Linked DNA regions of Homo sapiens: region 1 is linked to region 2. A link means that fine-mapping ties the variant in region 2 to the expression of a gene that starts in the linked region. Tissue or cell type: whole blood. Region 2 holds a variant in brackets; the other region holds the start of a gene. All regions are shown on one strand. Distances are from middle to middle.

Region 1 (8,181 bases), 33 kb after region 2:
CAGGAAACAGAAGTCCTGCAGTGGGTAGGTCCAGGCTGATGTGGGTGCAGGTGGTGAGGCTGGCAGCTGACCCTCAGATGTATCCACAAGTTGCAGTAGAAGGCCCCGGGGCCCTTCTTCAGGAAGGGGTGCTGACCAAGGGGCATCCTGATGCTCATGAACATCATGGGGGAAGACGCGACAGACAACTGGCAAAGAGTTTGGAGTTGGATCTGTCATACTACATAGAAAGCAAGCAAATTAGAACACCAGCCAATTATTCGCTGGAGAAAACAAAAAGTAACCTACAACATGACTCACTAGGAACAGCATTTACATAGTCATGCTTGTAAACACTGCATGATGAGCTCCGTGAGATTATACCACATCTATATAGGAGGGTGGAGAGCATGTACAGGGGCAAAGAGAAGAAAAAAATCATCTCCCAAAGAACAAAGTCACTAGGTAATATCTACAACTGAAAAATCAGGAAGCCAGGTGATTCAATGGCACAATGATAAATACCAAAATAATCAACTAAAAGAAGTGAAATGCCTAGGGGTTGGGTGCGGTGGCTCACGCCTGCAATCCTAGCACTTTGGGAGGCTGAGGTAGGCAGATCACCTGAGGTCAGGAGTTTGAGACCAGCCTGACCAACATGGAGAAACCGTCTCTACTAAAAATACAAAATTAGCCGGGCGTGGTGGCGCATGCCTGTAATCCCAGCTACTCAGGAGGCTGAGGCAGGAGAATCGCTTGAACCCAAGAGGCCAAGGTTGCAGTGAGCCGAAATCACGCCACTGCACTCCAGCCTGGGCAACAAAAGCGAAACTCTGTATCAAAAAAAAAAAAAAAAGAAATGAAGTGCCTGCTTCTGGGGAGAGGGAAATGGTGGCAGGGGATACTGTTTGGCCCTGCAGAAGCTATTTAACTTTTTACACTATATGCATGTTAAAAAAAAATACGTTAAAGGTAATTCAAGCAGTCTGCCCAGGAGCTACCTAGTAGGTTGGCCTGATTTTTGATTCAGCACAAAGGGCAGAAACTGAGTTCTTTCAATGAGCCATTAGCACTGCTATAAATGTTTCAAGGGCTGAAACACATAAGACACAATCCCTGTCCTCAGAATCGGGATTTCATTGAGAAAAAAAAGCCAACATATGAATGGGAAAGAACTCAAGTACAATGCAAGTTAGCAGGTGGTCAACCCTAAGACATGAAGAAGAGTTATGTGGTATCAAGGAGGAGACTCAGGGCCAGAGTAGGTAACAAAGACTTTGGGAAAGATGTAAGGAGGAGAAGGAGAAAGGCTAACAGAACTTGAGTTCTGTTCCCGAAACAGGGAGGGCATTTCTGCAACGGAGGCTGGCTAACAGTGAGGGTGTATATAATTGGGAAGTATGGACAGTTTTTTCAAACAGTGGTGAGATTTTACTTGTAACAGGGAGGGCAAGATTACTAATTAGGAAAAGCAGAGATTAGAAAACACAGACATCACGGTTGAGGGACTACATTTTCAGTGTCCTTCGGTGTTATCAATCACAAGCCCTGTAACATTTTTCCCTGCAGAGTGGCTCAGACTTAGCATACCTGCTCCTTATTAACACTGCCTCCACCCTGTGTTAAACCCCTCATAGCTAAAATCAACCATGTCGTGGGCTGCACCCCAGGCCTGCCTGCCTGCTTGCCTGCTCTGGCCCCTGTCTGCCTGGGCAGCCTCATGGCTGTAATTTTGTTTTCACACTCCAACAATACCATCCTTCTTTGCATTCCTAGAATACTGCCTGCTCTTGGCTGCCGCAGGACCTCTGCACACACTGCTCCTCCTAGAACACGCTCTCTCCTATGACTTCCCTGTTAACTCCTACATAAGCCGTCCATTCTCAGCTCACTTTTGATTCCTCAACAAAACAAACGTACCTGATTGCTCTCACTCAGGAGTTCCTGGCATAGTTCTCATGCATTCCTTTTCCTCACACCAGTTTGTAATTTAACCTTCATTTCCAATTCATGCCCACCTCACCATCTTGGCCAGTGGGTCTCAAAGTGGTGTCAGGTCACAGCAACAGCATACAGAACAACCTATTAGTGATGCAGATTCTCAGGCCACATCCCAGACCAACTGAATCAGAAACTTGAGGTGGGAGACAAGCAGTCTGTGTTTTTTAAAAAAAACCCTACTGATTCTGATGCATGCTTAAGTCTGAGAATCAACGTGCTACACTATGTGGTATAGGGTCTGTACCATCACAGCACAGACCAGTTAAGTTTTAGCACCCCATGGTGTCTCCTAGTGCCAAATTCAGGGACAACAGTAAGGACTTGGTAAGATTTCCTGGTCAGATGAATGATTGGTTAAAAAACTTTCCTGCTGGGAGCGGTGGCTTACGCCTGTAATCCCAGCACTTTGGGAGGCCGAGGCAGGCGGATCACGAGGTCAGGAGATCGAGACCATCCTGGCTAACATGGTGAAACCCCGTCTCTACTAAAAATACAAAAAATTAGCCGGGCGTGGTGGCGGGTGCCTGTAGTCCCAGTTACTTGGGAGGCTGAGGCAGGAGAATGGCGTGAACCCGGGAGGTGGAGCGTGCAGTGAGCCGAGATCGCGCCCCTGCACTCCAGCCTGGGCTGAACAGAGCGAGACTCCGTCTCAAAAAAAAAAAAAAAACTTCCCATGGCTCCATAAATCCCCTACTTTATTAATTCTAAACCCTTGCAGCGACTATAGAATACCCCCAAAATAAACATTGAAACTGCTGTTCGAAGACCTGGGTTCTAGCTCCTGCTCCCAGGCCTTTCTGGGTTCAAATTTTGGCCCTCCTTCTCTTACTATCTGTGTGATCATCCATAAATTTCCTAATCTCTCTTGGCCTTAACTTCCTCACCTCTAAAATAGGAATCATTATAGTACCGATTTCCCAGGGTTGCTCAATGATTGAGACAATGGCACTAAGAATCATGACTCACACAGTTAAGCACTCAACAAATGTAGGTAGTATTACTGCCATAATAATAGTTATTCAACTTTAAATGGTCTTTCCTCTTGGGTCTCAGCTTTCTTACTCAAGATTGACCACACACACACTTTAGACTAGTTCTTCCTCCCTTGCAAAACTACACACATCTAACACCCATCCGACGCCTGAAACCTCCCCTAGCAACCCGGAGTCCTGCTGGGGTTTTCCAGCTCCACCTCCTGAACAGCTGGGCTGTAGCACACAGGCTGGATCTACTCATACTTGCCTTCCTAGAGCTCAACTGAAGTCACTTCAGACAAGTGAAGTACCCACTCACCTCTGGAATCAGATCTTGGTAACGCCAACAGGTTAGCAGGTGATTTCATTTCAGTGTGTGTCTGGGTGGCTAGCATTCAAACGCAGCTCACACTGGGAGCTATTTCTAGTCCAATTTTGCTACTTGGTAACGTATTAATAGCATCAATTAAAACATTCCCAACGAATAGATCTTTAAAAGGACGGTTTCTGACTTCCCTAACAAGCAGAGGGCCGACCACCTGCCTGCGAAGTGCCCCTCCTGCCCTGTCTCCAGGCAGCATGCTGTGAGCGATGACAGAAACTGGACCCGCGCACAGAGAAGCTGCAGGCACGCCCTGCCCGGCCACCCAGCTGCCTGCCTGCTTCGCCCGGCCGCCGAGCCCCGGGGGAAAACCTAGAATGGGGATGCCGGTGCGCCCCGACACCTGGGCACGGCCGCGGGCCGGGGAGCCGCCCACACTTGGCTCCCCAAGAGTTAAACGCTGAGTAATTTTCCTGAGGAGCAAACAGTCGGAGCGGGGGCTCTGCCAATGGCCACAGTATTTTTATCCGACTTAACCGACACCGCGGCGCGACCTCGGCTGTCCCCAAGGGTATCCCCACGCGGCACGCTCCGGAGTCCCCGACCGGGACCCTCGCCGGCTCCCAGCGCGACATGGACGACAGCGCCGCCGCCGAGTCCCCCGCGCCCGGGCAGGAGGCAGAGACCTGGGGCCGCCCGAGGACTGCTAGGGGCCCCTCCGCCCGGGGTCCGCGCCCGGGCCTAAGCGGTAGGGGGTGTGCGCCCAAGTTGGCCCGCTTTGCTGCAAGAGTGGAAAGGGGTGGGAGCAGAAAGCGCCGGCCCCGCCCGGGGCGGGGAGCAACGCGGGGCTGCAGGGCCGCCTCGGGGCCCCGAACCACCGCCGCCCGGCCCACCGCGGCGCCGGGGAATGAATGGGGCTCCCCAGCTGGCAGCGGGCGCGCACTCACAGGCGACGTAGGCCAGCAAGGCGATGCCCAGCAGCAGCTTCATCCTCCTGCGGTTGACGGCAGACACGAGGCGCAGCAGCGCCTTGCTCACCATCCCCGGGAGCCGCGCGGGTCCAGGGCCCTACCGCGCGGGGGCCCGCCTGCTGCACAATGCGCGGCGGCGGCGGCGGCAGCGGCCCCGAGAGCCCCGCCTCCTGCCGCCGCGCGCCCCCGCCCCCGCGCGCCTGCTTCCTGCTGGCGGGATCACCGCGCAGGCGCGCCTCCACCCCCTTCCTCCGGCTCCGCCCCCGCCCCTCCGGCTTCTCTACCCGCAGGCGCAGTTGCCGCCTTTCTTGCCTTGGTTTTCGAAGAATGTGACCTGGAGGGCTGGTGGGCGGTGCGGCGCGCCGCGGCGCATGCGCGTTCCGGTCTGTTTTCCCTGAGTTAAAGCGCGCGGGTGCCAGCCGGGAGGTGCGGCTGGATTCGTTTCGCTGAGGTGCGTCCCCAACCCAAGGGCACGACTGCAGTGGCCAGTTTCCGAGCCCCGCCCGGAGGGGGGCACGCGGTGGGCATTCCGGTGTTGCAGTGAAACGAAACTTATTTGCTAAACTTGGCCGAGCCTTAGAAGTTGAATGCCTGCCTCAGAAAGTTGCCTCGTTCTCTGGGCTGTTTAGTTGGCTTTTTTTAGTTAGAATATCGGCAGCGAAAATGATAAATCCCCTAAACCTTGCCGAAGTAAAAACTGGCTGCGTTTTTTTTCCTTGGCTATGATCAACTGGGGTGCCTTTGTTTTAATAATAGTCTTTTATTATTATTTTAAAAAGCAGTGCTAAGTATATTAATTTAGGATAGACTTGGAAAAGAAAAGATGAAATTGCGCTGTCTCTGCCTAGAGAAAAACCCTGACCATGTTGTCGTGTGTGTTTCATTCAATCTTTTTGTTGAGTATATCTGTTTTATGAGTGCTGTACTGATTGCATAGGAGGTACCTGTGTTTAAAAAGCATTTACTGAATGATGATTACAAGCAAGGAGATGTATCAGAAGATCCACAGATAATCGGAAGCTTGTCATTGGATCTGGAGAGAGCTGGTCCCATGGAGGAAAAAAAGACAGGTACACACAGATGTGTGTGATGCCACATTAAGAGAGATCCCGGATTTGGGATCTGCAGGCTTCAAGAGGTCATCTTCAGCTATACGGAGAAGTTGAAGTCAGCAGCGGCTCTCCTACCTCTTGGAACCTCAGGCCATTTTGCAAAACTTAATAGATCACCCTCCTTTAGATTTATTAGAAACCTCCAAGAAAAGGAAATATGGCAGCTGGTACTAAAGCAGCAGCTTTATGTTACATCTTTCAAACTATAGTGCAAATGATGTGATTCTGATAAAACCTACCTCCATCCTACCCCTCCCCTAAACCTGTTGAGAATCCCTGACTAGGAGGAAACACTGAGCGGTTTGCTAAGGCGGATTGCCCCTGCTATGCATGCTGCCCATAGATGGAGTGGACTTCTTTCGAGAAGCCCAGCTCCCTGACTCTGACGTGTCCAAGGAGGCTGCCAAGTGACAAAACACCTGGCATGGGAGCCTGAGTCCTGGGTTCCCAGAGGGGCCAGGCCCCCAGAGCACACCAGTTTGGAACAAATCGATTTTGTTTGTAAGTCTGCATTTCCTCGTGGCTTTCTGGCTATGGTTTTTGAAAAGAGAACTAGAGCAAGTGGAGCTCTAGGCCTTTCCCATTCCATGACTCCGTGGTTTTTAGATTAAAGATGAGGAGCAGAAATGGAAGAAAATAATAGTTCATTAACATTTGACCTATGGGCAAAATCAGACTGAAGCTTCTAGGCGGATTTCAAGCATTTTAGGTTTTAGGTAGGGTTTAGTTGATAGGTATCCTATTAGACGACAAAGGTCAGAAATTGTGGGGTATTTGCCATTTCTGTACTAAACTCCTTAAGCCCAGCATTCCCAGTTAGCATTTTTTTCTGCTGCTGGACACTACTGCCAACTTCTGCCCTGTGGGATTAAGTATATGGAAATACCGTTAGCAGCTGCAGTTGAAATAGCTGCTGCTGTCATTATTGCCACCCAGAAGGCGGTTGGTGTCCCAGGACACTGGTGTCTTGCTCAGCCGCAGCCAGAATTAAAAAGTAAGCAATAGTAAGTGTGCACCCAGTGGAGGTAAGAAGGCCTGAGGGAGGGAGATGCCAAAGAGACCCTCCAAGCTCCTCCGGGGATCTTGGGCGTAGGCAGCACCATTTCCCTGTGCTCCTTGCCTCTCTTGTTTCTTCCCAGACCCCCTTGTTTCTTCCCAGCCCATCCCCACTTCCCCCGCAGGTTCTGGGCTCATCCCTCCCTGCTCCCTCCCCTTACTGTCAACCCCCTCATATTTCCAGTGGATAGGTTAACAACAATATTTTTGAGCGATTACATATTTTTGAACAAGTTACAAAGGTAGTGTTTTTGACACTCAGGGTAATTAAAAAATGAATTGTAATATGACTTCTAAAGTGTTTAAAGCCTAAGGAGTGGAGAAAATTAACATTTATAAACCTCTACAATGTGCCAGGGACTGTTATGCAATGCACTTTCATTGTTACCTCATTGATATGGTTTGGCTCTATGTCCCCACCCAAATTGTAATCCCCACATGTCAAGGGAAGGACCTGATGAGAGGTGATTGGATCATGGAGGTGGTTTTCCCTATGCTGTTCTCATGATGGTAAGGGAGTTCTCATGACAGCCAATGGCATTTTTTTTTTTGAGACGGGGTCTCACTCTGTTGCCCAGGCTGGAGTGCAATGGCACAATCTCAGCTTACTGCAACCTCTGCCTCCCGGGTTCAAGTGATCATCCTGCCTCAGCCTCCCAAGTAGCTGGGATTACAGGCGCCCGCCACCACGCCTGGCTAATTTTTGTATTTTTAGTAGAGATGGGGTTTCACCATGTTGGTCAGGCTGGTCTTGAACTCCTGACCTCAGGTAATCCACCCGCCTTGGCCTCCCAATGTGCTGGGATTACAGGTGTGAGCCACCACACCCGGCCGGTTTTAAAAGTGTTTGGAAGTTTCTCCTTCACGGCATTTCTCTCCTCTCCCCTGCCGCCATATGAGGAAGGTCCTTGCTTCCCCTTCACCCTCTGCCATGATTGTAAGTTTCCTGAGGCCTCCCCAGCCATGCGGAACTGTGAGTCCATTAAACCTCTTTCCTTTATAAATTAGCTAGTCTCCAGCAGTTCTTTATAGCAGTGTGAAAACTACTAACACACTCATTTAATTCTTGCAACAGCCCTGTGGGGCAGGGTTGCCATTGTTGCTGCTCTTTAAAAAAAAAAAAAAAAAAAAAAATTTTAAATTAATTTTTAAATCAACAAAAATTGTATATATTTATGATGTATCATATGAGGTTTTAATATATGTATAGATGGTGGAATAGCTAAAACTAGTTTGCTTCCACCTTTTGGGTATTGTGAATAATGCTGCTGTGAACACAGGTGTACAAATATCTCTTTAAGACCCCACTTTCAGTTCTTTTGGGTACATTACCCAGAAGTGGAATTTTTGGCTCATAAGGTAGTTGTGTGTTTAATTTTTTTGGGAACTTCTATACGGTCTTCCTTAAGGGCTGTACTGATTTACATTGCTGCTGTCATTAATAGATGAGGAAACTGAGGCTCTGAACATTTGATAAGTGTCCCAACACTTGGTAGGTGGCAGGGTTACCAGTTACTTGGCTTGGTAAGTAACAGGGTTACCAGTCACAGAGCTGGGAGTGTAGGGCTGGAATTTTAAGCCATGATTTTCCCTGTGTGAGGATGCTTTTCTGGAGTTGAGTGCAGACTTGCACAGAAATGACTATCACTCATAGCAAAATGTGGTGAGTGGTCACTGTGGGACAGGGTCGCATGAATGGCTAAGGAATTTCACAACAGGAAGGTATGCTTCCAGGTCATGGACTGTGGTTTGCCATGCCGGGACCA
Region 2 (8,181 bases):
TGGTCTGTGAGCTAGAAAAGGTTAAAAACCACTGCTCTCAAATTTCATACTTCCTCAAAAAGTTAAACACAGGGTTTCCATACAATCCAGTAATTCCACTCCAAAGTATACCTAAAAGAATGAAAATCCTGTGTCCACACGAAAACTTACACACATGCATTCATAGCAGCATTATTCACGATAGCCTCAAGGTGGAAACAACTCCAAATACCCATCAATTGAGAAACAGGGAAACAGTATGTGGTACACCCATACAATGGAGCATTGTTTAGCCATGAAAAGGAATGAAGTGTACTGATTGATGCTACAGCTGAGTCTTGAAGACAGATCAAATATCACATTATTTCTTTCAGACGAAATGTTCAAAAAAGGCAGATTCATAGAGATAGAGAGTAGTTTTAGTGGTTTCCCAGAGCTGGCGGGAGGGGACTGGGAAATGGAAGTGACTACTAATGAGTACAGGACTCTTTTTTGGGGTGATGAAGAAACTGTGGAATCAGAATGCGGTGCTAACTCTGTGGACATACTATAAGCCACTGAATCGTATCTTTGAGAAGCGTGAATTCTATGATATGTGAATTATCTCTCAACGAAAAAAGAAAGTTTCTTAATATTACAAATACTATTCAGGTGTGCAAACTTACCAAAATTCTTTTCCGATCCTTTTCTGATAAAAACTTTACTGGTGGGTATTTCTGGGTAAAGCTGTATAATATAAAGAGATTCAAAAGGAAAAAGTCAAACATCTCATTTGAATATTTTCTCTGTCTACCATCAAAGCATGTGCCAGGTTTTGGGACTGTTATTGTTTGCTCTTCTCTCCACTCTTGAATGAGTGCTGGAGAAACCAAGGAGTCACTAGTTAACTTGAGGTCAAGAGCTATATAACCTGCTCCTTGTTTAGAATCAAGCTAAAGACGTGACTTGAGATTCTATCTCTGAGAAGCAAAAGCGCAAGGAGCTACCGGCTTCCAGCAGCTGCTAAAGCAGGGCAGGCACTACCTCTATTAGTCCAGATAAAACCACACCATGAGGGAGATGGCCGTGAAACTGCCTTTGCAGAATTGTAATAATGAGAGAAATCTAATATGACTGGCTCCATCTAACCTCACAGGCTCAATTTTTGTTTTTATTGTTTTTGCTTATTTTAGTGCAGAGGCCAATATAACTAGGAGAGGAATTTATAGTTAAACGATGAGGCAAGGAAAACTGACCCCCCTCCTTGTTTCGAGATTGAAGCCACATTCCTAAGCCGAGGTTAGAGTTATGGTAGGGTCTGAACTTTGCTAAAGAATAAGCATAAACAATGACCTGCCAACTGCTTAGCTTAGCTGGCTTTTCTATATGTTGCTTCCTGCCCCAGGGTCACTCAAACAGAGGTCGCAAGATTTGTAACTTCTCCAACAACTTCTACAGATAACATCACTATTGTGAATCCTAAGGAAACGGTATTTGAGGTATCTTTCAGATTTAGCATTTTGGCAGACAGACTAAGAGATGTCACCCGGTCCTCAGACTTGGCTTCCATGAATTGATTCAGCTGCCTGAAGACAGTTTAGACACCCCCATGATTTCACACCCAGCCAATCGTTTCAGCTCCCCAGGCCCCCACCCACCAAACTACCCTTAAAAACTCAAGCCGCCGAGTTCTCAGGGAGGCAGATTTGAGAAACCTCGCCCATTCTCACACGTGGCTGGCCCTGTGATTAAACTCTCTCTTCGCTGTAACACCTGTTGTTCTCAGTGCCTTGGTTTTCTCAGGGCAGTCGGCAAGAAGAGCCCACCGGGCTATAATCATGGCATTCTCTGGGTACTGTATCAGGGTCCAGGTGGAAGAAAGCAGCTTCGTGAAGTCACAGGCCCAACGCATGAGGACCGCTCCACAAGAGCGAGAAGAGATATTAATGAAACTTTGTCTCCTGCTCCAGGAATTTTCACAATCACGGCATCCTCTTCCTGACCAGCGTCCCTGGTAAAACGACTGAGCATCAGCATCTTCTGTCTCTGTGGATCTGCTCTGACCCTAAGTCTCACTTATCTTTTGATACCCTCTTGCTGCCCTAAGGTGCCACTGGTCCCCAGCCCACACTGATGTCCCAGGAGCAGGGCAGTGTGATCTGAATATAAAACGTCCAGTGAGAGGTAATAAACACAGAACTGAAATATTCATTTTAAAAGTTATTCAGTTAGGAACAAAAGTGCTTTAAATAAAATCTGAGACATCAGCTTTATGGTCATTATACTAATTGGAAAGGTGTTGTGCCAGGTGGCACCGTCTCCATCCCTGCCCTGTCCCCAGCACAGACACAGCACTAGGATACAGAATGCACTTCCTTAATGGTCGCTGAACTGAAGGGAATATGAAGGGTCATTAGACAGAAGCCCCTGAAGCAGGGGTTTCTCATCTCCAGAAAGCCCTGAGCGTGCTTAAATTGGAGTGAAAGGGCTTTCTATTACAATGCAGACGAATTCCCCCATTAAGAACTTCCAGGGTCTCAAAAGCTCAAGTTCCCCTTGCAGACTACAAAATCAGATGGGAGAGTCTGAGGGCAAGGGTGGGAACCCTGGGGCTCCCCCTTGTGAGCTCACCGACCGTCTTTAGTACTTGCCGCCCATAGGAAGTGCCTCAGGAAAGTCATCCATGCAGCTGGGGAGCAGGAGCAAGTTCTGCCTTCAGTCAGGAGCGATGCTGTTAGACTGGCGGGAGCGGCACAGATGTCTTGTTTGCCAAGTAACACTTCTTGTCATTCCGCCTCTTCTTCCCTCACCAACTCAGCTAGGGGACGGCACTGTAAATCTCAGAGTTATTTGTGTGCACCTCTCACACCGCTCCAATTGTCCTCATTTCTCTGAGCTCACGATATCCATGTCTTCAGCCTCAGTCCCCAAGTGGCACACCCAGTGCCGTGGCACAGCTGAGACTCTTTCCTTCCCACGACTGCTCATAAGCACCGTGGCTCCTCCGAACTGTCTGTCGTGAAAACGCTGGAGCCGTCTCTGACTCATGACTTCCCCTCACTCACCTTCAGGGCTCCTTCTCTACCGTGTATATGATTTTAGAGTCAAGACCGCTCGGGAATGGGAATATAGCTACATATGGGAAAACGCGGTGCAGGGAGAAAACCAATTCAGTGAGGAGCGGAGGCGCAGGACTGTGGAGTGTGCATCCGGGGCCATGGAAACAAATGTTAATCCAAGCTGTCAGCTTAGAATAGTCCCTATCTGAAAGCTTAAAATGAAATGTGGTGTGCTACTTATACCAAGAGGAAACGGCCAAACCGTTTTATTACAGGAAATGTACTTCAAAGAAATTGAACTGAAGCAAAGGCATGGTTGCCCGACATACGCAGTGACGGGCATAAGATGGACTAAAAAATACTTCAAATGCAGCGTGCTGAAACCTTTAATTTAAAAAACGAAAAATAGGTTGAGTTTCTTGCTTTGTTCTTCTTCAATATGTAGCAGCCAAGTTTTAGATTTCATATGTATACGCTCAAGTAATTAAACTTTTAAAAAACTATCTTA[T/C]ACTCCTCACTTCTTCGAGAAGCCACACATACAAAGCTGAAAAACAGGAAGGGGAGAGTGCCTGTGGGGTCCTCCTCAGTATGCATGTCATCCTGTTTTCCTCCTTGCAGTAATGGGTGACAGAGCACAGTGACTGATAGAGTGCAGTGACCATGTGGGTGCCGTTGGCTGGGCCACATGCTGAGCCAGCTGCCTGGGTGCTCCCAAGCACCTGCTGGACTGACTCAGGGCTGGGCAGGAGCACAAGGCCTTTTTTTTTTTTCCTTTTTTGAGACAAGGTCTTACACTCTGTCACCCCAGATGGAGTGTAGCGGCATAATCACAGCTCACTGCAGCCTTGTATTTCTTGTAGAGATGAGGTTTCATTATGTTGCCCAGGCTGGGCTCGAACTCCTGGGCTCAAGCCATCAGCCTGCCGAGGCTTCCCAAAGTGCTGGTATTACACCGTGCCTGGCCCACAAGGCTTCTTAAAGACCTGTAGCAGGTGAAAATCCTACCCAGTGTACTGGCTCATCCACTTATTCAGGAACTTTCCATTAAGCTCCGTTCTACACTAGGCACTGGGGGTTAAGCAGCAAAATGCAGCAGAGGCATGAGGCCTGCATTCCTAAGCGAGAGAGAAACCAGCAAGCAGAGGCAGAATGAGGTAACAAATCTTTCCTTACAACCCCAAATTAGTCCTTTACTAATCATTAATATTTTATGCCATTCCAGATTAAACTTACTGTTTAGCCAGTAAGCAGTATTCTTACTTAGAATTTAAATTATCATTTGCCATCTATTCAAAGAACATTTAAAGATACAGAGTTAAAATTAAACAAATGGCATATAATCAAAGTATTAAGCAATGGGAGTGTGGTAAAAGAGAAAAAGCCCACATACAATCCATTTACTCAGGATTCTAGAATGACACTGTCTTCTTTCTTTCCCTGTACAAATATAACCTGTAACTTCCAAAAATATCTTTAGTTCTTGGGGGCCACTTTGCTCAAAGTGACAAGCACGTCAAGTAAACCTATTTCCAGTTACATTCTTATCTTGTCAGTGTCAAGATGGTTGTTTGATCATCTTTATCACACACTGAGTCAGGAAAAGTAAGCTAGACGGAGTTCCATCAATTTCCACCGTCACGCTTTTTTAGCCAGGCCTACGCTTGACCTTCTGACACAGTAATGCAGGCACGCGGATCACCTGACTTGCTGACCAACCTGAAGGACGGAACCATTCCAGAATGAGTCACCTGCAAGCAGCCCGAGAGGCAAATGTTTGCCCTTTGCCACTATTTTCAAGGCGGTTTCACAGGTTGACAAGAATAAATTATTAGTAAATTCTTAGGATTGAATTCTTATTTGTGCTTCTCCATCCAGTTTAAAAGCACACACTCAAAGATATCACAAAAGTATCAAAGAGATTGCATAATTCTCACATGTTGAGAGCTCTTGTTTGTAAGCTATTGCCTTAGGGAAGTTATCGAATTGAGACATTTTTCTTTTCATAAATAAATTCTATTGTCTAAAGAAAATAATCACTGGTGGACAAGTTTTTAGACCAATATAGAAAATGTGTGGTGGGTTATTTCTTATTGTTCCAATTTTTCTAAAAAGAAAAAAAAAGCTTCAATTAAGATCTCTCAATTCTGCTGTCTTATCAAAGGCAGATTTTCTGGCTCCCATCCAAGGAAATATTACAAGCTGCATAACTAAAGCACAGAATCATGGCAAAAAAAATTTAAAGCACAAGTAACAACCTTATATTACTAAGGAATCTGTTAAAAATTACTGACAACTTTTGTTCTGATAAGTGCTGAAATTAACAGTTTGCTTGACTGCTCAGTTGAGGATAAGAATCAAGTGAATGACACATTTTGTTTAATGACTCTTCTCCAGTCGTATTTCCCTTCGATCATTTAATGAAAATCAAAGGAAAACTGCTCTTCATTTTTTCATTTTTGTTCTGGACTTGATAAAAGGCTCATTCAATGCTGACACACATCGTCCAAACTCATCCCAATAAGGGGAAAAAATCACATCAACTTTAATAAATGCTGTCATTTTTCTTTCTAAAATTTCTGAAGATTCAACTGCTACTCTAGATAGTTTTCCACATACAGTACGTGCAAGAGGAAAGTCCTGGAGGCTGAGGCTCAGCGGCCTCGGGAGTGCCTGAGAGAGAACCTGAGGGCAATAGTGTCCCAAAGGGTGAGGAGGGGTTCTCTCCGAAATCTGACTCAAATAAACATTTCTATCATATTACATAATTCTTCTGCCCTCTCACTTCACCTGGACTAAATTCTGGAAACCTCCTCATGAACTCTGGTGACAAAAGCAGCTAAATGACTACACATGACACACCATAGGCTCCACATCCTTATTTTGTGGTGTTTGCATATGGTACATTTCAGGCCCACTGGATTGTCCTCCTATTTTGGAATTCTATCCCACTGATCAATATATGCAGAAGTTCAAGGAAAATGTGAGGCCTGGCCTCAACTTCTATGTAATAAATTTGCAGAAATTCAGACGTTCAGAGTTTGAAGAAGGAAGATCTTAACACATCTAGATTGATTCTTCTCCCCATGTTCTATCTGGGTATTACACTCAAAGTGGGGGAAATGCGTATACAGACATTTATTTAGGTTGGCAGAGTTTGGAGCAAACAAACAGAATTAATTACTCAATTGAGACAAACTTATTTTAACTATTGACTTTAAGACAAAAAGTACACATACCTTTTTTCTAAATCTCTGATTTTCTCTCTTAGTGGTTCAACCATCTAGAACAATAATAACAAAAATCAGTTTTAAAGCAAAAACACAGTTCTCAACCCCTTTCACCCCATTCTGATGTTTCAGATAAGGCAAAACAGGTTTTAATTTCTTCTACAAATTAACTTCCAGTTTGAAATTAAGATACACCACTTGCATCACAATGCTAGAATTGAACAGATAAACTGTCCATTTGAACTCTTACTCCATAAATGCCTCGGTTTCTGAGACAATTAATGTTTTTGCTCACCCATCCTACTAGGAAGAATGTAAAAGGTGTTTCAGGCTCATAAAAACAGATCAACACTATCCATCTCTTTTTAGGAACAATCCCCTAAGCATGGCCCACAAAAGCTTAACATCTTGTTTCTGCAATTACTGTGTATACTCATGTTATCAGCTGCAGCACATAAATTGCAGGCTGTGAGTCAACCTACATCCACGTCTGTAGACACTGTGGACTCAGGCAGAAAGACAGCAACTCAAGGGCTTCCCAGGACTCCCTAAGTTGGCTTCAAATCCAAAGTAAGTAACCTCCCATCCCCTCCCCCACAGCCCATGTTACAACGGTCTGGCTGTATCTACATGTATTTAAATAGGAGGTGCATAACTGAGCATAGGTGCTAGCCTTCAGCTGGGTGGGTGTGCAACGTCTCCATCTGTGCACGTGGCCTAGCATCCGATTGGTGGCCATTGTTCTTTTCAGCACCTGTGCCAGTGAGAGGATGTTTGTACTCATCTCTATCTCCCAAAGGCAATCACTTCCCTTTCTCTAAAAAACGCTTACCTGAAAAGTCATGTAAAAGTCTAAATCCATTTTGCCTTTGAGGTAGAATTTGTTTTAATACATCAAAAATGGACCAACAGTAACAGACTGCATGTCCTCTTAAATAAGGGAGTAATTTTTTGAGACACGGTTGCAAAATCACAGAACAGCATCAAGCTGCCACAATAAGAATGACAGCACGAGCAAAGGAAGTAAAATTGACAAGTATACAGATGAAATAGATACAAAAATAGAAAAAAGACTAACCTCTTCAATCTTGCTTTCAATTTTTAGTTCACCATTTTCCTGGATAGACCTGTTGAGTAGAAAGCTATAAAACTGAGATCAACTGAAAGGCTTTGTGACTTTAAGACTGTTTCTGAATAAATTACCCTAACATAACCCAACGGATGCAGACCACCTCTGTCTCCTGCTCAAGTATCAGTCATGTGTACAATTCCCTCCAGAAGGGATGCACCAGAGGAAAAGAAGACAACCAAAGGGAAGGACTCCCCTTAAATCCATCTGTGAACATGCTCAGTATTACCTAATGGATTATTTCCACTAAACTAAAATAATCTCACTGCTATGCTACATCCAACACAGGATTTTAAATTTGAAGCAGGAAGTGCGTCTGTAGGAGTATGTGTTTGTGCCTGCTGGGCTTTCCTGGGGATTTAATGTAAAAATGGAGTCTTTTAAGTAAAACCACAGAGCTCCTTTAAAAGGGATCTGAGCACCCCACCTAGTCATACACAGCAGCCTTTGTCAGGAGACACACACATGCCCTGGTGGTAGGAATCAAATCGACACCATCCCACCCACCTTGCAAAACCCAACTCCACATGAAAAGCCTCCTGAGGGCATAGTAACCTTTTACCCTGGTAGACATGTGCAGCCGCATTACATTACAATACCAACCTAATCATCACAATAGTGATTCTCACAACATAACCAAGTGGAGCAAATTTTCCTTTACATGGAAAACTATTAACAGTACCAAATGGTTTTTACAATAAGTGCTTATTTCTTTTTGCTGATTTTTTTAAAGGCTATTTTTTTTTATTTGGTAAAGAGATAACACGAGTTTTATTTTTACAAGAGTGCCTCCTGCCCTATGAAGAAG

What was found. PIP is the estimated chance that this variant, and not a neighbour inherited with it, causes the effect.
Region 1: UXS1 starts here. The variant in region 2 is fine-mapped to the expression of UXS1 in whole blood (TOPMed, PIP above 0.99).

The regions. Positions count from the first base shown.
Region 1 is chr2:106,189,925-106,198,105 of GRCh38, forward strand. It overlaps UXS1 (UDP-glucuronate decarboxylase 1), which reads right to left and starts at 4,377. Exons shown (of 15, transcript NM_001253875.2): 1 at 4,224-4,377. The coding sequence starts at 4,317. RefSeq lists an enhancer at 3,470-3,519 and a silencer at 3,850-4,459.
Region 2 is chr2:106,157,414-106,165,594 of GRCh38, forward strand. UXS1 (UDP-glucuronate decarboxylase 1) reads right to left here. Exons shown (of 15, transcript NM_001253875.2): 3 at 7,323-7,386; 4 at 6,254-6,297; 5 at 645-705. Among named protein-coding and RNA genes, the nearest start is that of UXS1, 33 kb to the right of the region's middle. RefSeq lists enhancers at 3,765-3,824, 3,835-3,924, 7,658-8,177. The variant T/C (reference allele first, on the strand shown) is at 3,526.